2 separate regions of the Homo sapiens genome follow, and region 1 is linked to region 2. A link means that fine-mapping ties the variant in region 2 to the expression of a gene that starts in the linked region. Tissue or cell type: whole blood. Region 2 holds a variant in brackets; the other region holds the start of a gene. All regions are shown on one strand. Distances are from middle to middle. Region 1 holds the start of REEP5 (receptor accessory protein 5). Region 2 overlaps REEP5 (receptor accessory protein 5).

Evidence for each region. PIP is the estimated chance that this variant, and not a neighbour inherited with it, causes the effect. A credible set is the group of variants that fine-mapping cannot tell apart.
Region 1: REEP5 starts here. The variant in region 2 is the best candidate, but not a certain one, in a credible set for the expression of REEP5 in whole blood (TOPMed, PIP 0.55).

Annotation. Positions count from the first base shown.
Region 1 is chr5:112,917,354-112,929,131 of GRCh38, reverse strand. REEP5 (receptor accessory protein 5) reads left to right here and starts at 6,905. Exons shown (of 5, transcript NM_005669.5): 1 at 6,905-7,059; 2 at 7,876-7,969. The coding sequence starts at 6,942. LOC105379123 (a long non-coding RNA gene) reads right to left here and starts at 6,745. Exons shown (of 3, transcript XR_948675.3): 1 at 5,476-6,745. RefSeq lists an enhancer at 5,383-5,502 and silencers at 6,635-6,904, 7,265-7,714.
Region 2 is chr5:112,889,825-112,901,481 of GRCh38, reverse strand. All of the region lies in intron 3 of REEP5 (receptor accessory protein 5), which reads left to right. It also overlaps a transcript of SRP19 not described here and the pseudogene ZRSR2P1. Among named protein-coding and RNA genes, the nearest start is that of REEP5, 27 kb to the left of the region's middle. RefSeq lists a silencer at 4,614-4,663 and an enhancer at 9,026-10,225. The variant C/T (reference allele first, on the strand shown) is at 7,812.

The DNA of each region.
Region 1 (11,778 bases), 28 kb before region 2:
GTACTACAGGTGCCCGCCCCGAGGCCCAGATAATTTTTTGGTATTTTTAGTAGAGACGGGGTTTCTACATGTTAGCCAGGATGGTCTCCATCTCCTGACCTCGTGATCTGCTTGCCTCGGCCTCCTGAAGTGCTGGGATTACAGGCGTGAGCCACCGCACCTGGCATAAAGGACATTTTTAAACCTGGTGAGAAATCTCTAGATTTGTGTGCAATAGCAATGACATATTAGTAATTTCACATAAAAATACTTTTGCTAAACTAAAGGATATTTCCATGTTGGTTTATTCTCAACTGTGAGCACTAATTTTTAAAAATCAACTTCCTGTTTGATAAGGGGAGAAATACATTAAAATGCTTTGTCCATATTTTCAGTAGAAAATGTTTAAGAATAGGACAAATGAGGTAAAGAAAATGTAATTCAAATATATTCAATGAAACATGGTGATTTTCACATTTTATTTCCTTCAATGCTCTTTCTTAAATTACATTCAGACTCTACATTTTCCTCCCATCGTCTGGCAAGTCCGTGTCTCAGGTTTTGTTTACTCTGTCTTTTTCCCTTTTTATTCTGATGACATGTCATCATAAGCCTCCTGCAGCAGAGGGAGGGTGTATGTGCCAACAGGGCTGTGTCTGCAGGGGCTGAGGGTCTCCTGCCTGTCTCATTGGTGCCATACCAGGGTACCCTACAAATGCAGGGGTGGGGGAAAGGAAGGAAGAGATTACCTGACAAATTATGCTGTACCTCTTCTTCCTAACATGAGTAAGAACAAATGTGTTTGATGACTTCAACTTGTTTTCTTACCCTGAAGAAACAGTTTGTGTAGAACAAAAGTGACCTGATCTGAGTTCTCCAGCAGAATTTTCTTCTCTAGCTCACAGAGGGTATAATAATAGTATTTGCCTCATCCCAAGTCAGTTCAACTTCCTCCTTAGAAACTGCCAAAGTTGGCCAGGTGCAGTAGCTCATGCCTGTAATCCCAGCACTTTGGCAGGCTGAGGCGGGCGGATCACAAGGTTAGGAGATCGAGACCATCCCGTCTAACACGGCAAAACCCCATCTCTACTAAAAATACAAAAAAAAAAAAAATTAGCCGGGTGTGGTGGCGGGTGCCTGTAGTCCCAGCTACTCAGTAGGCTGAGGCAGGAGAATGGCATGATCCCAGGTGGCAGAGCTTTCAGTGAGCCAAGATTGCGCCACTGCACTCCAGCCTGGGGGACAAAAAAAAAAAAAATTGCCAGTGTCAACCGGTTCCAGGCCAACCTTCTTCACAGCCTCCAAAACAGATCTCATCTATCTAGTTCCCAGATCTAACAGCATCTGGCACACAGGATATATTTAGTAAATATGAGTAAGTGAATAGTTTGAGACCTTAGGCAGGGTTCTGGGTTCTTATTTTCTGCATCTCTTTCCTCTGCTATGAAAGAATCTAAGGTTTACAGTGCTGATGGGATAAACTAGGATCCCATACTCCCCGAATCTGATTGTAATTTACTAAAGTCAAGAATAATGTAATATTTCTCTATCTCAATTTTAGAGGCTGGGCATGATGGCTCACTCCTGTAATCCCAGCACCTTGGCAGCCTGAGGTGGGAGGATTGCTTGAGCTCAGGAGTTCAAGATCAGCCTGAGCAACATGGTGAAATGCCATCTCTACAAAAAATACAAAAATTAGCCAGGCTTGGAGGCATGTGCGTGTAGTCCCAGCTACTTGGGAGGCTGAGGTGAGAGGATGGCTTGAGCCTAGGAGGCAAAGGTTGCAGTGAGCTGAGATTACACCACTGCACTCCCGTCTCGGTGACAGAGCCAGACCTTGTCTCAAAAAAAAAAAAAAAAAAAAAAAAAAAATTACACCTAGCTGTGTTTTTTTTCTTTCTTAAATTATTTAAACACTTATTTTGCATCAAGTACTCTTCTAAAAACATTACAAATAGTAACTCACCTAACCATGATGAGAACTCTGTGAAATAGGTACTATTTTTATCCTTGTTTTACAGATGAGAGACCAGAAGCACAGAGAGCTTATGCAACTTGCCCAAAGTCACATAGCTAAATGGTAGAGCTGGGATTTAGCTCATACAGACTGAATCCAGAGATAGAACTCCACACTATGCCTCACTATACTGCTTTGCCTCACCATTGGTTGAATGCTTGAAGAAAGAAGAAATTTGGAATCTATGTCAAGAGAAAATTGAAAAGAGCAATATTTACAGAAAGAAAGCCAAGGGCTGGGCACAGTGGCTCACATCTATAATCCCAGCACTTTGTGGGGTCAAGGTGGGAGGATTGCTTGAGCCCAAGAGGTCAGGGCTCCAGTGAGCCATGATGGTGCCGCTGCACTCCAGCCAGGACAACAGAGTAAGATCCTGTCTTGAAAAATAAAAAAATTAAAAAAAAAGGAAGAAAGGAAGAAATGCAAATGAACAATATGTTTCTAGATATTCCATGCATAGTTAATGTAGTACAAATGTTGCCACTGCATGAAATGTAGTGACAAAAACCTAGGTTGATTTGGATACCTAACTTAAAAGGATTTTGCTCCTTTGCTAAAATAAATAAATAATAAATAAAACAATCAAATTGTGAGGCTGGGTGTAGCGGCTCATGCCTGTAATCCTAGCACTTTGGGAGGCTGAGATGGGCGGATCACTTGAGCTCACAAGTTTGAGGCCAGCCTGGGCAACATGGCAAAACTCCATCTCTACAAAAAAGTACAAGAATTAGCTGGGTGTGGTGGTGCACACCTGTAGTCCCAGCTACTTGGAAGGCTGAGGTGGGAGGATGGCGTAAGCCCAGGAGGTGGAGGTCAGTGAGCCAACATTGTGCACTGCACTTCAGCCTGGGTGATACAGTCAAACCTTGTCTAAAAAAAAAAAAAAAAAAAAAAAAAAATCAGGACCGGCACTGTGGCCACCTGTAATCCCAGCACTTTGGGAGGCTGAGGCAGGCAGATCACTTGAGGTCAGGAGTTCAAGACCAGCCTGGCCAACATGGTGAAACCCCATCTCTACAAAAAAATACAAAAATTAGCCAGGCGTGGTGGTGTGCACCTGTAGTCCCAGTTACTCAGGAGGCTGATGCACGAGAATCATTTGAACCTGGGAGGCTGAGGTTGCGGTGAGCCAAGATCATGCCACTGGACTCCAGTCTGGGTGACAGAGGCAGACTCCATCTCAAAAAAAAAAAAAAAATCAAATTATGAATCACTTTAAGTATTCAAAAACAACCCCAACTTAATATACATACTGTACTCAGTAGGAAATTATACAAACTCACAACTGGTTTGAAGTTTACAGTTCAGTTATTCTGCTAAGCAGCTGTACTAGTTTCCTAGGGCTGCTGTAACAGTCTCACAAACTGGGTAGCTTAAATAATAGAAATTGAGGCCAGGTGCAGTGGCTCATGCCTGCAGTCCCAGCACTTTGGGAGGCCAAGATGGGGAGATCACTTGAGGTCAGGAGTTTGAGACCAGTTTGGCCAGTGTGGTGAAACCCCATCTCTACAAAAAAAAAAAAAATTAGCTTGGCATGGTGGCACACACCTGTAGCCCCAGCTACTTGGGAGGCTGAGGTGGAAGAATTGCCTGAACCTGGGAGGTGGAGGTTGCAGTGAGTGGAGATTGTGTCACTGCAGTCCAGCCTGGGTGACCCAGTGAGACCCTGTCTCTAAATAAATAAATAAAACAGAAATTTATTATCTCACAGCTCTGGAGGCTGGAAGTCCAAGATCAAGGTCTCAGCAGGATTGGTTCCTTGTGAGGGTTGTGAGGGAATGATCTGTTCCAGGACTTTCTTCTTGGCTTGTAGATGGCCATCTTCTCCCTGTGTTTCTTCACAGTCTTCCCTTTATATGCATCTGTCTCCGTCCAAATTTCACCCCCCCTTTTTTTTTTGAGACAGAGTCTCGCTCTGTTGCCCAGGCCGGAGTGCATTGGCTTGATCTCGGCTCACTGCAAGCTCTGCCTTCTGGGTTCACACCATTCTCCTGCCTCAGCCTCTTGAGTATCTGGGACAACAGGTGCACGCCACCACGCCCGGCTAATTTTTTGTATTTTTAGTAGAAATGGGGTTTCACCGTGTTAGCAAGGATAGTCTCGATCTCCTGACCTCGTAATCCACCTGCCTCGGCCTCCAAAGTGCTAGGATTACAGGTGTGAGCCACCGCGCCTGGCCAAATTTCCCATTTTATAAGGACAACAGTCACACTGGATTGAGGTCCACCCTAAGGAGTTCATTTGAATTTGACTACCTCTTTGAAGACCCTATTACCAAATAAGATCACACTCTGAGGTACTGTAGGTTAGGATTCCAACATGTCTTCTTTAGGGAGGTAGAATACAATTCAACCCATAATAGCAATGTAATATAGGGGTAAGAGCCTGATTCTGAATTCTAGCTCTGCCACTTATTGTGATATGGGAACTCACTATGTCTCATTTTTTTTTTCCTTAAATGAGGATGAAACAGGTAGCATCTTCCTCATGCAGCTGTGAGGATTAAATGAACTAGTCCACGTAACACTTGGAATACTGGGTGGTACAACACATGTTAGATATTCATTCATTCATTAATTCAACAAATAGTTATTGAACAACTACTAAGTGCCAGGCACTGTTCAATGTGCTTAAAATATTGAAGCAAATAAAATAAGCAAAAATGTCTACCCTCACGGAGCTCATAATCTAGTGAGGAAAGAAAGATAATTTAAAAATAGAACATGGTCTGGCATGGTGGTGGCTCATACCTGTAATCCCAGAACTTTGGGAGGCCAAGGTGGGCAGATCACAGAGTTCAAGACTGGCCTGGGTAACATAGTGAAACCCCATCTATACTAAAAACAGAAAAAATTAGCCGGACATGGTGGCACACGGCTATGGTCCCAGCTACTTGGGAGGCTGAGGTGGGAGGATGGCTTGAGCACAGCAGGAGGTCGAGGCTGCGGTGAGCTGTGACCACGCCTCTGTACTCCAGCCTGCGTGACAGAGTGAGACAGTCTCAAAAAAAAAAAAAAAAAAGTAGAACATAATGCCAGACAGTAATAAATTCTATGGAGAAAAATCAAGCTAGAGACCACTGGGGGTTGCAATTTGAGATTAGGGGTACCATTTGAACAAATATCTGAATAATGGAAGGGGACAGTTAAATGGTTAACTGGGGAAAGATACTTTCAGATAGAGGAGGGTTTCTGGACTGTCACATTATTGACATTTGGGGCTGGATAATTCTTTGTTGTGGGGGCTGTCCTGTGTGTTACAGGATGTTTAGCAGCACCCCTAGTCTCTAACCACTAGATGCTAGTTGCACTTGCCACCTCCTGCTCTCCTTGTGTGACAATCTGTTTCACAACGAAAGTATCTCTAGACATTGCTACTCCTCCCCCCAGGAGGAAGAAGGGGAGAGGAAGTGCTCCTGGTTGAGAACCACTGAAATAGAAGAAAAGTGAACGAACGCCCAGAGGCAGGAATGGGCTTACCTTGTCTGAGGCACAGCAAGGAGGGAGGCAGTAAGGGAAGACATCAGAAAGGGGAGGGATGAACCATGTCACCTGTGACCCTGATGCCCTCCTTCAGGCAGATAGGAAGTTGCTGGAGGGTTGAGAACAAAAACATAGCACAACTTGACGCACATTTTAAAACAGATTCTACTGTCTGCCACATTGAGAATTAACTGTAGGTGAAAAGACAGAAGTAGACAGCAGGTTGTTTCACTTGTTCACTGATTTGGCTGGGTGGTGGTAGGAACAGCTGAGAAAGCTGAGCTAAGAAGCTCTGAGGAAGAAAGGAGGAAGGAGAATTAGCATAAAAGGAAAAAGCTAGGCGTGGGCAAGATAACTTTTTGCAGAAGTGGAAGGCAGTAGGGTAATTAAGTAGATTTGAAAGCACAGAGGGGTTGTGTAGGACCAAGACAGAATGTTCGGGGCCAGTTGTGGGCAGGGCATTGAATGCTCTGCCAAGGAATGGGAGCTCTAGTCTGTTAGGATAATAATACGGAGCTTCGGACAAAAATTCTGCAGCAGTGTGCAGAATAGGAGTCAACAAGAGTAATTTTAGGAGTGTCTGGAAGTCATATGGGTGAGATAAGAGGAGCCTAGGTTTAGGTGGAGGAAGAGCATGGCCAACTCATTCTGAAGGAAGCAAAAATGAGCTCCTGCCCTAAGGCTTGGACCTTAGAATCTCCGTCTTCTTCAGAGTATTTTGACTGTAGGAAGTGCAGAGTATATTGGCTCCACAGAGAGAATTTGGACACTTGCCACAGTATCAGACACCAAGACAACGCAAGCCCACCATGAAAAGATTTAATGCAGTTTTTGCTTGGAAAAGGTGTACCCCAGGGAGGATGTGTTAGATTTCTTCAAGGGTCTTTACAAGGCAACGATTGTCTGTAGGTGAGAAAAACTGCCAAGTTAAGGCAAAGAGGGAGAAAGCAGGACTGCTTCCAAAGAGTTCTTTCACGATGCTCAAACATTTCAATTTTTTAGGTCAAAAATGCCTTAGGTTTAGCACAGCAATGTAGGTGCCAAACTCATCGCAGTGAATTGCAGGCGGGAGCAACAAGGACGCCTGCCTCCTTTCTGCCTGCTTTTTGCAATAGTCCGATTTGAGAAGGGGACCCACGAGAGACACAAAATGCACGCCCCCACGCCACATCCTTTTTACCCCGCAATGGGTTAAGACTGTCAACAGGCAGGCCACCTCGCAGCGTCCGCGGAGTTGCAGGCCCGCCCCCGCCAGGGTGTGGCGCTGTCCCCCTGGCGCTGGGCGGGGGAGGAGGGGCGCGCGGCGGCCGAGGAGGGGCGCGCGGCGGCCGGGCGGGGCGAGCGGAGGCGAGTGGAGGACGCGTAGACGCGCCGCGGTCCCCGCCTGCCGCTGCTCCGCCGCAGTCGCCGCTCCAGTCTATCCGGCACTAGGAACAGCCCCGAGCGGCGAGACGGTCCCCGCCATGTCTGCGGCCATGAGGGAGAGGTTCGACCGGTTCCTGCACGAGAAGAACTGCATGACTGACCTTCTGGCCAAGCTCGAGGCCAAAACCGGCGTGAACAGGAGCTTCATCGCTCTTGGTGGGTGGCCGGGGGTCGCCGCCGCTGGTAGGGCCACGGGAGCCGCCGCTGCCCCAGCTGCTGGGGAAGGAAGCAGGGAGAGGACTCGGGAAAGGTGGAGTCGGAGACAGACGGGACAAGCAGCATATTCAGGGATCAGGCTGGCCTCCCGGAAAGCGTGGGCATCGGAGGACCCCGCGGGGGCTGCCCAGGCTGAGGGTCGCGGGGCTGGAGGGCAGCTGCGGCGCCGGGCGCTGGCAGCTGGAAGGGCCAGCGCTGACGTATGTCTGCCCCGCGGCCCGGCGCCCTATTCCTGCTGTCCTGCGCGGTGGGCGCGGACGGCGGGGCCCCTGCGGGCGGGCGCGTTGACGGAGGTACCCGGTCCTACCCGACCCTCCGTGGAGCTCCGCCCGGAGAGGGCGCCTCTCGGGTGGGCGGGGGCTGCTACTGCAGCGTGTGCGGGAGTCCGGGCCTCTCGGGACGCTCCCCGCTGAGCGCAGCTTCCCAGGCTGGAGCGCTGCCCAGCAGGCCCTGCGAGAGGGCGGAAGCGGGTGCCTGGGACCGTCCCGGGCGCCGGGGGTTGCTGCGCAAAGCGCCGGGGCCCCCTGCGGGAGGTAGGAGAGGCACAATGGTGGGGCTGCCTGGTATCCCCAGACTTCAAGGCATAGCCCAGCGGACGCGCAGGCCCAGCTTTCGTGTGGTTTGTTTTTCTCGCTCCTTTAATCGAGTCGAGAGGAAAACTCCTACAACAGGCCCAGCCTCGCGGTGTGGGCGGCGGCTGTCCCGCGTGAACGGCTCTCATGCTGCCCGACCCACTTCTCTCCTTGTGGTCCCCAGGTGTCATCGGACTGGTGGCCTTGTACCTGGTGTTCGGTTATGGAGCCTCTCTCCTCTGCAACCTGATAGGATTTGGCTACCCAGCCTACATCTCGTAAGTGACACACCCTGCAGCCGTCCCCTTCCCTTCCTCCATTCCTCCCCGCAGGGCTGCTGCAGTAGACTGCACATCCGCAATTCCCGGGAGAAAAGTGAAAGCTCGGCGGGGAGGGATGAGGTTGGACATAAGGGGTGGGGATAGTATTCACCATTTTGGAACCTTAACTTAATCCCTATCTCTTGACGATTAGCCCAGAGGTATTTTCATTAGATTATCCTGGTGACCAGTGTCCCCTCTCTTTGGCACACTAACAGGAAAGCGCTACCACTCTGTCGTCCTCCCTTTACTGGTGGGAGGATCTCAGAAGGTACAGGGAGCTGAGCACTTCTGTCTAGTAATTATTTTAATGAGTATTTCACCATATATTTATGCACCTAGAGAGTAAAACCCTATCAATTAGGTCTTCCTTAATTCATAATTACGTTAATTGAGACAGTAGGGAGAATTTTCTCATTTTCTTTTATTTTGAAAAAGCCACATGTTACAGACAAACTTGGGAAATGCTTACCCTAGTGTAAAAACAAAAACCTTTAAAAATGCTCCATGATATAGCTCCTTGGTTATATAAGTGAGTCATTTATATAATTGAGCTACTTAAAAAATGAATTTTTACGATTAGGATCTGAATTTATTACCAAAGTTGTTTTTATTCTACAATGTGTTTATTTTTTTTAATTCTACGATTTTATTTTTCCATTCGTTCAAGTAGGAATTATTCCTCTCCAGAAATGAATTTTGTTTTGCTCTACAGTTCTTCCTAAGAAAGCCAGTGGTTTTTACCTTCATTCAGTTGGTCTCTGCTACTTTCTTCAACCATAGGGATAAAAATAAAGGAAGAAAAAATTTTCACCTAGGAGGCTAAGACACAGATAACACATTATTACAGCTTGTATCTGTCACTAGTTAGGCTAGAATTTAGTCTATGACTATAAGGGAAGAAACATGTTTTAGAAGTTAGTTCTGATTTGAGCAATTAAATTGCAGTTACCTAGTAGTTGTTACTGTGTTAGTCCGGTACAGACACTTAGTCATACTCCAGAAAGTCTAGCTACATATAGCCCTGAGGCCTACCCCGGGCTCTGCTTTATGGAGGAGACTCAAGGAAAAACGGGATTGTGTGCACAGAATAAAGCATACAGACCCCCGTGAGCAAATATTCAGGCGGTCGGTGTTACATTAGTCTAATCAAGTCTGTTCATTGCATAACCAATATGATTGTATAATTGTCCAAAAGAAAGAAAAAGTATTTGAAAATGGTGGTCTTTAGTAGCATCAAAATCCATGTTGCTTAAAGTGTGACCTGTGAACACTGTCTTAGTCTGCTTGGGCTGCTATAACAAAATACCTTAGACTGGATAATTTATAAACAATAGAAATTTATTGCTCACAGTTCTGGAGGCTGGGAAATCCAGGACCAAGGCACCAGCAGATTTGGTGTCCGGTGAGGGCTTGCTCCCTGCTTCAAAGATGGCATCTTCTCACTGCTTCCTCACATGGTAGAAGGGTCAACTGGCTCCCTCAAGCCTCTTTTATAAGGACACGAATCCCATGCATGAGGGCAGAGCTCTCATGCCTGTTTCTTTTCTTTTGAGACAGAGTCTCGCTCTATATTGCCCAGGCTGGAGTGCAGTGTCGTAATCTCAGTTCACTGCAACCGCCATCCCTGGCCGCCCCCACCCCCGCCAAATTCAAGCAATTCTCCTGCCTCAGCCTCCCTAGTAGCTGGGATTACAGGCGTGTGCCACCACGCCTGAGTAATTTTAGTATTTTTAGTAGAGATGCGGTTTTGCCATGTTAGCCAGGCTGATCTTGAACTCCTGACCTCAGGTGATCCACCTGTCTCAGCCTCCCAAAGTACTGGGATTACAGGCGTGAGCTACCACACCTGGCCAAGCCCTCATGTCTTAATTGCCTCCTAAAGGCACCACTATTTAATACTAATACATTGGGTATTAGGTCCCAACATATGGATGTTGGGGGAACACAACATTCAGACCATAGCAGTCACCTTCATTTTAACTATTCTCCATACCTCTTGTAACTCTTATGCTCCCTAGCCAGAGTTATTTTTTAAAATACAGGTTCATCTATTTAGCAAAAATCAAATGCCAGTCACATGTGTGGCACTGTGGTAGCACTTTAGATATGGCAAGAAATAAGGTAGTCATACTCTCTGTCCTTGTTGAATGAGCAGTCTACCCAGGCAAGAAATAGGCAAAGTAGTGACCGTGTGGTAAGCCCTCTAAAGTAAATAAACAGTTCTGGTAGAGAAGACCTGAGGAATGAGAAGGGGCCAGCCAAGAGCAGAGCCAGGGAGAGGGAGAAGAGTGTGTCAGGCCCTGAGGCAGCACACAGCTTAGCTCTGTGTGAGCAAAGAGTGGTGGGGGAGGCACCAGAGAGGTGCAGGTGCCAGCAGGTAGGGTCAGTGGTAGAAGTGTGCATTTCATTCCAGATGGTGGTAGGGAGTTTGCATTTTCTGATTGCCTTGGATGGGTTTTAAATAGGGGGTGACATGATACGATTTATATTTTAAGGTCACTTTGGCTGCTGTGACCTCTGTAAGGAGTTCGCGATCTTGCCAAACTATTGCCAGTAATTTACTTCCTTCCTTTCTCACCTTTCAGCCTTTCTCTTGCTGTTTCCTCTCCTTGGGCCATCACAAGAAGGGGAGTAGTGTCAGTATTGGGTCAAGAGACTGCAGGATGCAAAGATGAAATTGGGAAAAGCTCACTTGGCTTCCTAGCTTTTCTCCCTTTGGACTCCCTTTGGAAGTCTGTGAGTGAAGCTCAGGTGCACCTGGCTCCTGGTCAGGGTCTGCTGCACGTTGGAGCATGTAGATGGTTGAAGACTTGCCCAGTGCTCACTGGGGAGCAACCAGTACCTTATTGTATACCCCTCTTCCTACTGGTTGTTCTTTCCGTGTGCATAATTTCCCTTTGAGCTCTTTGAGAACAGGGTCTTTCATCTCTGACTTCTAGTTTCTAGAATTTTTGGCCATCTTATATAGGCAATTCGGAATCTAATTCCAGCCTTCCTTTCATCAAGAACTGTTGACATAATTACCTTAATCTCCTTACTTCCCTCTTTTACTGATAACAGGAGGCAGACTACTGGAAATGTTTATTATAAAGATAGACCTCCCCCCATTGCTAAGATATAATTTAGATACTTATAAATTGTACACTTTTAAAGTATGCAGTTCAGTGGCTAGTATGTTCAGAGTTGTGTAACCATCACCACTGTCTAATTCCAAAACATTTTTATCACCCCAAAGGGAAACCATCACCAATCACTCCCTATTCCTCCTACCCAGCCCCTGGAAACCACTAATCTGCATTCTGTTTCTATGAGTTTGCCTATTCTGAGCATTTCATGTAGACGGAATCATACAATATATGGCCTTTAATGTCTGGTGCAGCCCTGCTTCTAATGGGATTGCACAAATAAGAGTCCTCTGGAGGGTGTATGCTGTGCTGCACCCTCATATGTGAGTAAGTCCTCCTGGTGCAGTCCCTCCAGGGTGGGCGCTAGTGAGCCAGGGCCCTAGTCCTGTACTTGCTCCTTTGTACAAATGGAATTGTGAGGCAAACTCAGACTTTATCTTCTATTTAAGGAAAGGGGAAGGTTTGCTTTCTGTCCTACCCAGTAACTTTTTTGCTTAAAATTCTATAAAAATGTCTATTACTTTTCCTCTTTTTATTTCATATTTTCCTTAAGACTTGGGCTGCCACCTTCCTGGGACTATCAGAGTTGGGCCTTAAAGATCAAACAGGTAGTCCAGTTCCTTTAGTTTTAAAATGACA
Region 2 (11,657 bases):
CCACCTCGGCCTCCCAAAGTGCTGGGATTACAGGCGTGAGCCACCGTGCCCGGACTCAATCTGACCATCTAATTTTCAACTGTACTCCATGATTACATTATAACCATTCTGTTATTCCTGCTATATACCGTGTTCTTCATTTCAACTATTATATTGTTCACACCTAATGTTTTTGCTTGGCTCTCTTCTTCTTGTCCTTGTTTCATATTGCTAATATTTTCTCATTTCTTTTAGTATGGTTACCGCTCCCCAGTTTAAAATTCTTGGTCAGCAGTTCTAATATTGTTGCTCCTGACCAAAACTTGTAGTTGATTGTGTTGTTTTTCTTTTGAAATGTACTCTTGGCCAGGCGTGGTGGCTCATGCCTGCAATTCTAGCACTTTGGGAGGCCGAGGCGGGCAGATGGCCTGAGCTCAGGAGTTCGAGACCAGCCTGGGCAACACGGTGAAACCCTGTCTCTACTAAAATACAAACGAAATTAGCTGGGTGTGGCAGAGTGCACCTGTAGTCCCAGCTACTCAGGAGGTGAGGCAGGAGAACTGCTTGAATCTGGGATGCAGAGGTTGCAGTGAACCGAGATCACACTACTGCACTCCAGCCTAGGCAACAGAGCCAGACTCCATCTCTAAAAAAAAAAAAAGAAATATATTCTTAAAATATCTTTTTATTTTAGCCTACAAACTGCTTTTCATCCATGAGTATCAGCTATCCCATCAGGCACTGGAATGGAGGGGGCCCCAGTCCATGCTAGTACTAGTAAGTTCTGGGTAGGGGGTGGATGAGTCCTAGGAGTGGGGGGCCCCAGGCACACAGGAACCATAGTTAACCACTCTTCACCTACAGAAGAGCTCCTCAGGTCAAAGCTTCACTGTACAGTCCCCTTCTACCCCAGCAAAGCAGCATCAAAAGGAAGTGATCCTGGGTTATAGTTCACAGCTCTAGGGGTTGGAGCAGGAGGGGTAGGGAAGTAACTGCCTTTAGTTAGTGTCCACCTGTTTTCCTGAGTGATTTGCAAAGACAGGACTTTTATGCCAAAACCTCTGTTTTAGAAAAAAGTAGAGGACAATATTTTTTAACTTTGAGGTATAGAAGCAAGACAAAATACAAAAGTTTCAAAGAAAAAGATTTGATAAATTCAACTAAAAATTTCTAAAAATTAAATTTCTATATGACAGTGGGCAGCATAAACAAAGTTAAAATAATGACAGACTAGGAAGATAGATTTACAACATTTACACCAAATAAGGAATATCCAGAATACATAACAATTTCCATAAGTAAAAAGAAAAAGAAAATGGGAAAAGGTTCTAAGTTAAGTATTTCACGGAAGAGAAAAAATATGAATGGCTAGTAAACAGCTCACCAGTGATGTGGGAAGTGTGAGTTAAAATAGTGAAATCCCATATTTTGTTCATTAAACTGGCAGATATTTTAAAGATTGAAAATATCTGGTATTGGTGAATGTATAGGGAAATGGACATGTAATGGTACAGGCTGAACATCTGAAATTGGAAATCCTAAATGCTTTAAAACCCCAAACTTTTTGAGTGCCCACATAATGATCAAAGGAAATGCTCATTGGAGCATTTAGATTTTAGAGTTTCTGATTTGGTATGCTCAGTTGGTATAATGTACATATTCCAAAATCTGAATAAATGTGAAACCCGAAACACTTTTAGTCCCAAGCATTTCACATAAGGGATACTTAACAGCCTAGTGGTATAAACTTGAATAACCTTTTTAAGGGACCTTTTAACCATTTCTTGTTGAATTGAAAAATGATACTCTTAACAATTCTAAGGAAATAGTCACTGTGCATTAAAGAGCTGCACAAAGATATTCATGGCAGCATTTTTTGTTGTCAACTGTATATAATATGAACTGCATAATGTAAACATTATAAACAGAAATGTCCATCAGCAGGTAAATGGTTCATTCAATTAATAGTATATCCATACAGTTAAATGGAATGAAATAGATCCATATGTACAGACCCAGAAATTTTTGCATAATTTAGTAATTATGAAAAGTTATACAGGACAGTTGTGCTAGCTTTTGCCTGTAATCCCAGCATACTCGGAGGCCAAGGCAGAAGGACTGCTTGAGGCCAGGAGTTTGACACCATCCTGGGCAACATGGTGAGACCCTGTCTCCACACACACAAATTTAAAAATTAACCAGGCTCCCAGATCACAGCATGTTGACCAAAAAAAAAAAAACCGAAAACCAAAAAACAAATGCCAGGCATGGTGGTGCATGCCTGTGGTCCCATCTGCTCAGGAGGCTGAGGTGGGAGGATGGTTTGAGCCCAGGAGTTCAAGGCTACAATAAGCAATGATCACCCAACTGCACTCTAGCCTGGGTGACAGAGTGAGACCCTGTCTCGAAAAAGAAAAAAAGTAATAGAACATTAAATACAGTATCACACCATTTATGGTTAAAAAAGAAAAAAGACAAGACACTATATGAAGTGAGTGTCTTTTAAAGTTTAAAAAATTAAATGAAAACATGCTCAGTATAGATTCTTTTATATTTTTGAATGACTTCACCACAGAATGCCTTGTAAGGCAATTAAGAATTTTCCTTTCAAAACTGATGGAAGAAAATAAAAATTGGTCTGTGGAAAGAGTTGATTTCAAAGATTGGATTTTTTTGTTTTTATTATTCAAAGTCATTTAACATTTATAAAAATATTCTTACAATCTTTAATTTGGACATGACATAATTTAAACTTCAGATAATTTTAAAGCCCTTAATAAGATCCATCTAATCGTAGGGACCTCACAGTAGTCTTTAGTGGAAAGAAATTGGCTTTTGCTTTGGGCCCACTTGCTTGTGGCAGTGAACACTATCTTGTCAGCAGAACTACTTGCAGTAGTTCTGACCTCAGACTTCCAAATGTGAGCAAGCTTGACTTCTAGCCTACTCCTAATCACCTCTGCTAATGGAGTTCACAGAGAGGTAGAGAGAAGATCCAAAATAAATGGTAGTCACTGAATCATTTATATTTGGTTTTGAAGTTCATTTAAAATATTGCTTTGTAGCAGACTTTCTTCCCTAATGGTAAAATGAATGTGCATCCATTAGTAGTCTCCAGCTGCATGGCATCATAGTGTTCATGAAAGTGAATTTATTGCATACATTCCAAATAGATAACATACTTGAAAGGATTAAACATTCATGATGCTGTCAATCAAAATACTTTCTTCCTACATTAGTGGCATACTCTGAATGACCTAGTGAACAGACTGAGAAGAGGCCTCTGAATTGCAGAGTCTCGTCTGTAGGAGAAGGTTCAGGAGAGTATTGAATTTTAGGGACTAGAATCCATCTTACCTATGCTGTTGCAATCGCATGCTGACTGGAAGTGTGGGAAAGAGACTTACAAGTAAGGACATGGGTTTGTTTTGTTTTTTGTTTTTTGGGACAGAGTGTTGCTCTGTCACCCAGGCTGGAGTGCAGTGGTGCCATCTTGGCTCACTGCAACCACTGCCTCTCCAGTTCCAGCGATTCTCCTGCCACAGCCTCCCAAGTAGCTGGGATTACAGGCACGCACCACCACACCCAGCTAATTTTTGTATTTTTAGTAGAGATGGGGTTTCGCCGTGTTTGCCAGGCTGGTCTCAAACTCCTGACCTCAAGTGATCTGCCCGCCTCGGCCTCTCAAAATGCTGGGATTACAGGTGTGAGCCACTGCTCCCAGCCCGAGGACATGTTTAATATTTTATTTTTTGCAGAGTTAATATTGTTGGCTTTATTTTCATTTTTCTAAAGCAGCTGATAAGATTGGAGGAAAATAAAAGGAGCCAATGGCTTGGCATCAAAGCTTAGTTGAGAAGATAATATATGATGTATTTAGGTAGAAATTGGATCATGCATATTCTGAGCTTTGCTCTGACATCTGGCCTTGAGCAAGAGGGTTTAAAAATAAATTTAAAAGCTTTTTTTCTTGATTATGAAATTTACATATGCTCATTCCTTTATTCAGCAGATTTATTTAGAACCTCCATGTGCCAGATTCTGTTCTACATCTGGGAGATACTTTGGCGAATAAAACAAAGTCCTTGTTGTCCTACTGTTTACATTTGTGTGTGTGTGTGTGTGTGTGTGTGTGTGTGTGTGTGTGTGTGATGGGATGTGTTTTATGTAGGGAGGAAAATAACATTTGTAATCCTACATCTTAGAGTAGTCTTCCTATTTTTTAAAATGTGCAAATATATTGGTCTGTGTATATAAATAAAAACAGAACTCTGTGTGTATGTGTATATATATATGTATGTATTGCTGTCTTAACATATGTGTGGCTTAGATCACATATGATATATAATTCTGTGTCTTGCTTTTTTCAATTAACACAGTATTCTGAGTATTTTCTCATGTTATTCAGTATTTTTTGACATAGCTATCTAATGTTATTGATAATTTACCTACTTCCCAATTGAAAGACATTGAGGACATTTGTCATGCGATTATACATAATGCTGCAATTAATATCTTTGTATCCTCTGTTTACCTTCATTTAAATCATTTTCTAGATTTACTTTACTTTTTTTGAGACGGAGTCTTGCTCTGTCGCCCAGGCTGGAGTGCAGTGGCGTGACCTCTGCTCACTGTAACCTCTTTCCCAGGTTCAAGTGATTCTCCTGTCTCAGCCTCCCGAGTAGCTGGGACTACAGGTGCACAACCACGCCCGGCTAATTTTTGTATTTTTAGTAGAGACGGGGTTTCACCATGTTGGCCAGGCTGGTCTCAACTCCTGACCTTGTGATCCACCCACCTCAGCCTCCCGAAGTGCTGCAATTACAGGCGTGAGCCACCAGGCCTGGCTAGATTTATTTTTAGAACAAGGTTGAGTAAACTCTGGCAAGATTAGGTCCTGACCTGAATTGTCACCTGTGCTATTTCACCCATTGACAGAGAATATAACATTTTTCTTTTCTTTTTTCTTTTTTTTGAGATGGAGTTTCGCTATTTCACTCAGGCTGGAGTGGAGTGAAGTGGCGTGATCTCTGCTCACTGCAACCTGTACTTCCCGCATTCAAGCAATTCTCCTGCCTCAGCCTCCCAAGTAGCTGGGATTACAGGTGCCCACCACCACGCTAGGCAAATTTTGTATTTTTAGTAGAGATGGGGTTTCACCATGTTGGCCAGGCTGGTCTCAAACTCCTGACCTCAGGTGATCCTCTTGGACACCTCAGCCTCCCAGAGTGCTAGGATTACAGGCGTAAGCCACTGTGCCTCGCAACATTTTTCTTCTTAATGTTCGTAGGAGGCTAAAAAGACAGGGAAATCTTTCCTTTAACACGTTCTTTTAAGCTTTTATTTGTGCATGCTGAGCAATGTAGCCTGTAACTATTCTGTGGCTACACTGCAAAAGCTTTCTTCTGACATTAACTCTCAGTTCCGTAACTGCATGTTAAGCATACCCCTACCTGGGAAATATCTCTTCTGGGGGAAAATCACATGGTGACAGCATTAGAAGCACAGACGGAATAGAATGGCCTGTTGTAATTCGTAATTTAAGGAGTCATTGTGTCAGTGCTAATAGTGCCAAGAGTCCAGTTAAAATAGCATGGACTCTGTCTGAACTGCAGGCAGCAGTGGGCTTGTGAGTCTCCTTGGGAGTATCATCAGCTGGCACTTTGAGGGCAGCTTGATTGAAAAGAGCCAGATCTGTGTGGGTGACTTTAATAAACTCAGGCTATTCCTGGGCTGTAGAATAGTTACACAGATTAAGAAGAGAGGGTTGTAAGAGGTGGCAGCTGAATATCACCTTGGGAGTTGAACAGTAATTAACTTTATTTTTAACATAAGAAAATGATTTCATTTCAGAACAGGAAAATGCTAAGGATGTAGCTAGAGAGCAGTAATTATTTTACTGTCTCAAGACAATAGCTAGAGGGTACCAGAAAGTAGTCAATTAACAGTCTGCAGTCTAGCCTACAAAGTAATCACATTGAAGAGGTACAAAACTGTGGACACTTAATTCATCCAGAAAAGATAATAAGCTTGTCTGGATTGCTGAAGGGTTGGCATCTACATAGGCAGGTAATATTTCAGAGATTTTCCACAATAAGAACTTTAGGATTTGGTAATACTACTATTCTATTGTACACTTTCTTCAAGTACATTAATTTGTGACTTTCCTAAAACTCTGCAGAAGAGAAAACTGTCTCTTAGGTTGATTTGCCTAAAGTCATAAAACACACCCCACCTCTCCTGATTTTTTTTTTTTTTTTTTTTTGAGACAGAGTCTCGCTCTGTCGCCAGGCTGGAGTGCAGTGGCGCAATCTCAGCTCACTGTAACCTCCGCCTCCTGGGTTCCAGTGATTCTCCTGCCTCAGCCTCCTGAGTGGCTGGGACTACGGGTGCCCACCACAATGCCCGGCTATTTTTTTTCTAATTTTAGTAGAGACAGGGTTTCACCATGTTGGCCAGGATGGTCTCGAACTCCTGACCTCGTGATCCACCTGCCTCGGCCTCCTAAAGTGCTGGGATTACAGGCGTAAGCCACTGCGCCCAGCCCCACCTCTCCTGATTCTTAATCCAATGAGTCATTTTCACTTCACCTTAATGCTCTGGTTTTAATATGGACATCTGTCTCTCTCTTGATAATCCATTTCTGAAAATCAGATATTCTATGTAGGAATACATTCTATGCAGAAGCTTATTTTCCACTATTTTAAGTGGGAAAAATTTTAATGTATTACATGTCAATGTAAAACTCAACGAATTCACTAAGTATTAATAAAATACAGCAAAATACCTATATATAACAAATATCATGTTAGGATGTTAGATGCTAAAAACACTTGCTGCTCTCCAAATAGTTAATATAGTAAGTAACAATTGCTCTGTGTGCAGGAATACATAGCACATCCCCTGTGATGCTCTGCATATTCTTCAAAATGTCCACCAAGGATTCTGATATTCTGTCAAAAATGTTACTCAAGACATTTCCTGCATATCATAATGTTGTATTGCATTTTGGGGATGTATAGCTTTTCCTATATAAGCAACTACAGTAAAACATTGTATGAATTTTGGATATTAAAAACCAAAAGGCAGCAGGGTGCAGTGGCTCACGCCTATAATCCTAAGCACATTAGGAGGCCAAGGTGGGCAGATCACGAGGTCAGATCAAGACCATCCTGGCCAACATGGTGAAACCCTGTCTCTACTAAAATACAAAAAATTAGCTGGGCACGGTGGCATGCGCCTGTAGTACCAGCTACTCGAGAGGTTGAGGCAGGGGAATCACTTGAATCTGGGAGGCGGAGGTTGCAGTGAGCTGATCACGCCACTGCACTCCCGCCTGGCAACAGAGCAAGACTCCGTCTCAAAAAAAAAAAAAAAACAAAAAAAACCAAAAAAACAAAACCAACCAAAAGGCTTCCACAGGGAAATAACTAGAGAGGTGGTCTTGCAGGGTCTGCTGTAATTAACTGGCACTATGCCAAGGAAACAAAGCTAATGCCAGTGAAAAATACAGTCATTTAATTCTCCATTTTGGGTCAATGCAAATGCGTATCTCAAAAAAACCAAGGTTCTGAACCTCTGGCAACATCTTATAATTCAGTAAGATCTGCTGCTGGCTAAACTTAGGGCATGCTAGAGCAGAGTTGCTGGGAAAACTAAGAGTAACATCGAACTACTTGCACATACTGAGGGTACCTCAAGGCGCTGGCTTCCTTGGAGTGCTTGGACCTTTAACAGAAGGTCTTAGTCTACCATTGTGTGTGTGCAGAAGGCTGATTTGAGTTTTTGCATGATTGCACATTCATGCACGTAGCATTACTATCCATGTGTAG[C/T]GAGACTACTAGATGCTAGTCTGAGTCTTTACCTTTCCATCATCTACTGTCATGCTTTCCCAAGTCTGAAGATCCTGTTTTCCAAGATCTGTGCTCAGTAAACAAGCTTTGGAGTCTTTAAATGTAAGGAATAGGAAAGGTGAAGAGAGGCCTGGCTTAAAATCATAACATGGAGATTATGGCAGTGAATCCCATTGGATTGAATGGTCTGATATGGAAAGCAGGCTGTGTAGTTCCACTAGTCCAAAAATTCTATTTTTTGAGACACAGTCTCGCTCTGTCACCCAGGCTGGAGTGAAGTGGCATGATGTCGACTCACTGCAACCTCCGCCTTCCAGATTCAAGCGATTCTCCTGCCTCAGCTTCCCAAGTAGCTTGGATTACAGACGCCTGCCACCACACCTGGCTAATTTTTGTATTTTTAGTAGAAATGGGGTTTTGCCATGTTGGCCAGGCTGGCCTCAAACTCCTGACCTCAAGTGATCCACCCACCTCAGCCTCCTAAAGTGCTGGGATTACAGGTGTGAGCCACTATACCTGGCCTGGTCCATTCTTTTTTTTTTTTTTTTTTTTTTTAAGAACAAAACTAGTTTATTTGGATTGGGGACTCTGAACAGTTCTGTCTCTATTACCCGACTTCCTCCTCCCACGACTTCGGCACCTAGAGGAACTTTGGCTCCGGCTGCGGTGGCTCCTGCGGCTCTGGCTCCGGCGGCCCTGGTCCCAGCTGCGGTGCCTATTTCTTCCTCTGCTTGGTGAATTGTGCCTCTCCCGACTCTTTGATGTGCGTTTGTGAGATTTCTTCCCCCTATGACTACTCTTTTTTCTCTCGGATTCCCCATTTCTTTTGTAGGTGTGGTCTGGACTAGGGTTTCTCCTTCCCCGCTGCCTGCTGTAGTAGTGGTCGTGGTGGCCCATCTTCTCCCTCCTCTCGGAGTTCTTGCCAAAGGAGGAGCCAGTCTGATCTGAAGACAAGTAGATGTCTCTATTAGCTTCCCAGAATTCATTGTTGGGATTTCTGAACACATGAAGAAAGTTGCAGTGTTTTCCTCTTGGACATTGTTGTATTTCAAATAAACCACAAATCGCCATTTTCCACCGGGTCACTGGGCAGAATTCACATTGCAGCTGTCGTCCTGCATACCATCGTCCGTTAAACAGAGAAAGGGCTGCTTGGCATTCTTCTTCCGACTGGTACTGAACATATACATTGCCCCTCAGGTGAGGTTCCAAATTGCAGCTGACCTTGAACTGAATCACTTTCCCCACGTTCTTGAACTCGGGCAACACATCCTCATAGAAATCTAGGAACTGTTGGTAGGTTTCTTCCTCGCTGTACTCCAGGCTTGCGTCAGGGTCATAGTCATCCCTCCTGCACTGCTCCATTCCAAACGTTGTAAACATGCTCTTAATAAGAAGGGTAGGACTAGATGTTGGGAAATTATGTTTACGTGAACATCTGTCTCCAAATCTGCAAGCTCCTGTTTTACTGTAGAAGGGACAATTAGCTCGATCCTTCTCCATTACTCTGAAATCCACGGGTGGTTCTGGGTTTTGCCATGTGGTACTATTTTCTAAATCATTTTCAGCCTGATCCAGCATCTTCTGCACAGCTTCCTCTTTTTCTTTCTTCTCCTGTTGTTTCTGCTCCTCCTCTTCTCTCTCTTTCCTCTGCTGTTCTTTCCATTGTTCCTTTAACTTTCTCTCTTGTTCTTCTAGCCATTTTTTAGCCGCCTCTTCCTTTTCCTTCTTTATTCTGAATTCTTCTTGTGCCTTCTGCTCCCTCAGCAACCACTCCTCATGTAATCTTTCCCTCTCTCTTTCCAATAGCTTCTCTTCTTCTAGTTGTTGTTCTTCAATAAAAGTGTCCTCTTCCTCCTCCTGTGAGAGTCCTGAGTCTCTCAGTCGAGCAAGTTCCTGCCGACGTTTCTTTCGTTTCTCCTTCTTCAGGGCGGCCCTGTACTTTTTGTGGCTTGGTTTCTCTGGAAATGTCATCTTCTTGGGAAACGTCATCTTCTCAAGTGCAGCCATCTTGCCAGCACCGCCTGACCCCTCAGACATTCTTAACCTATGGGAATATATGGAAGATTTTGTTCATAGCTGCCACTGTCAGTGATTCTACTTATGAATATTTTATGTTTTCTAGTATTGTTTTGTTTGCATACTTATATATATTACAAATTACTTTCATTTTGTTTCTCCTTTATATTGCAGTTAGACTTTTTTTGTAATTAAGTATATCATAAATTTGAATTTCATTTCATGTACTAAAAGGAGAGTTCTAAAATATTTACTTATGGCCAGGTGCGGTGGCTCACTCCTGTAATCCCAGCACTTTAGGAGGCCGAAATGGGCGGATCACCTGAGGCCAGGAGTTTGAGACCAGCCTGGCCAACATGGCAAAAACTCATCTCTACTAAAAATAAAAAAATTAGCCAGGCTTGGTAGCACGTGCCTGTAATCCCAGCTACTTGGGAGGCTGAGGCAGGAGAACTGCTTGAACCCAGGAGGCAGAGGTTGCAGTGAGCCAAGACTGTGCCACTACACTCCAGCCTGGGTGACAGAGTGAGACTCTGTCTCAAAAATAAAAAATAAAAATAAATATTTGCTTAAATATTTTTGGTTCTAGGATTTGCTTTCCCCTACTGAAAGCTAACATGTTCTCCTGTTAGTAATGTTTCATAGATGTTGTTAGAAAACACAGTATTCTTGGGTCAGAGAAAGTCCTTGCTATGCTTAGTAATTTTATTTTCTTACAAAATTATAGGGGTAAATTTTAAAATTTTCAATTAATACCTATTTTATAGAGGAAAAACCAGACTTAAGTGATTAAGTAACTTGTATAAGGTTTGCTTAGCTAGTAAATGGCAGAACCAGGATTGGAAGTTAGTTTCTTTGAGTCCATCCTGTTACTCTCTATATACTATATTAACTCTTTGAATCCCTCTTTGTTGGGTTGAGAGATCTGTATATATCTTTAGAGTGAGATTTTAGGCCAGGTGCAGTGGCTCACACCTGTAATCCCAGCACTTTAGGAGGCTGAGATGGGTGGATCACTTGAGGTCAGGAGTTCGAGACCAGCCCGGCCAACATGGCGAAACCCCATCTCTACAAAAAGTACAAAAATTAGCCAGACGTGATGGTGCGTGCCTGCATGCCTGTGGTCTTCAGCTACCTGGGGGGCTGAGGCGGGAGAATCACTTGAGCCCAGGAAGTTGAGGCTATAGTGTTTTGTATTTGTGCCACTGCACTCCTGCCTGGGTGACAAAGTGAAACCCTTTTTTATTTAAAAAAAAAAAAAGACTTAAATTTTGTGTTCTTTATTCTGTATTCTTACTAATTTCTAGGTTGTTTTATATATCAACTTTTTTTTGTCTTTTTGAGACAGGGTCTTGCTGTCTCACCAAGCCTGGATTGCAGTGATGGTATCACAGCTCACTGCAGTCTCGACCTCCCAAGGTCAAGCCACCCTCCCACCTCAACCTCCCAGGAGGACCACAGGCATACATCACCAAGCCTGGCTAATTTTAAATTTATTTTTTGTGGCCGGGTGCGGTGGCTCACGCCTGTAATCCCAGCACTTTGGGAGGCCGATGGGGGTGGATCATTTGAGGTCAGGAGTTCAAGACCAGCCTGGCCAACATGGTGAAACCCCGTCTCTACTAAAAATACAAAAATTAGCTGGGCATGGTGGTGTTTGCCTGCAGTCCCAGCTACTTGGGAGGCTGAGACAGGAGAATCGCTTGAATCCGGGAGGCGGAGGTTGCAGTGAGCTGATATTGTGCCACAGCACTCCAGCCTGGGTAAGAGAGCAAGAATCAGTCTCAAAAAAAAAAAAAAATTTTT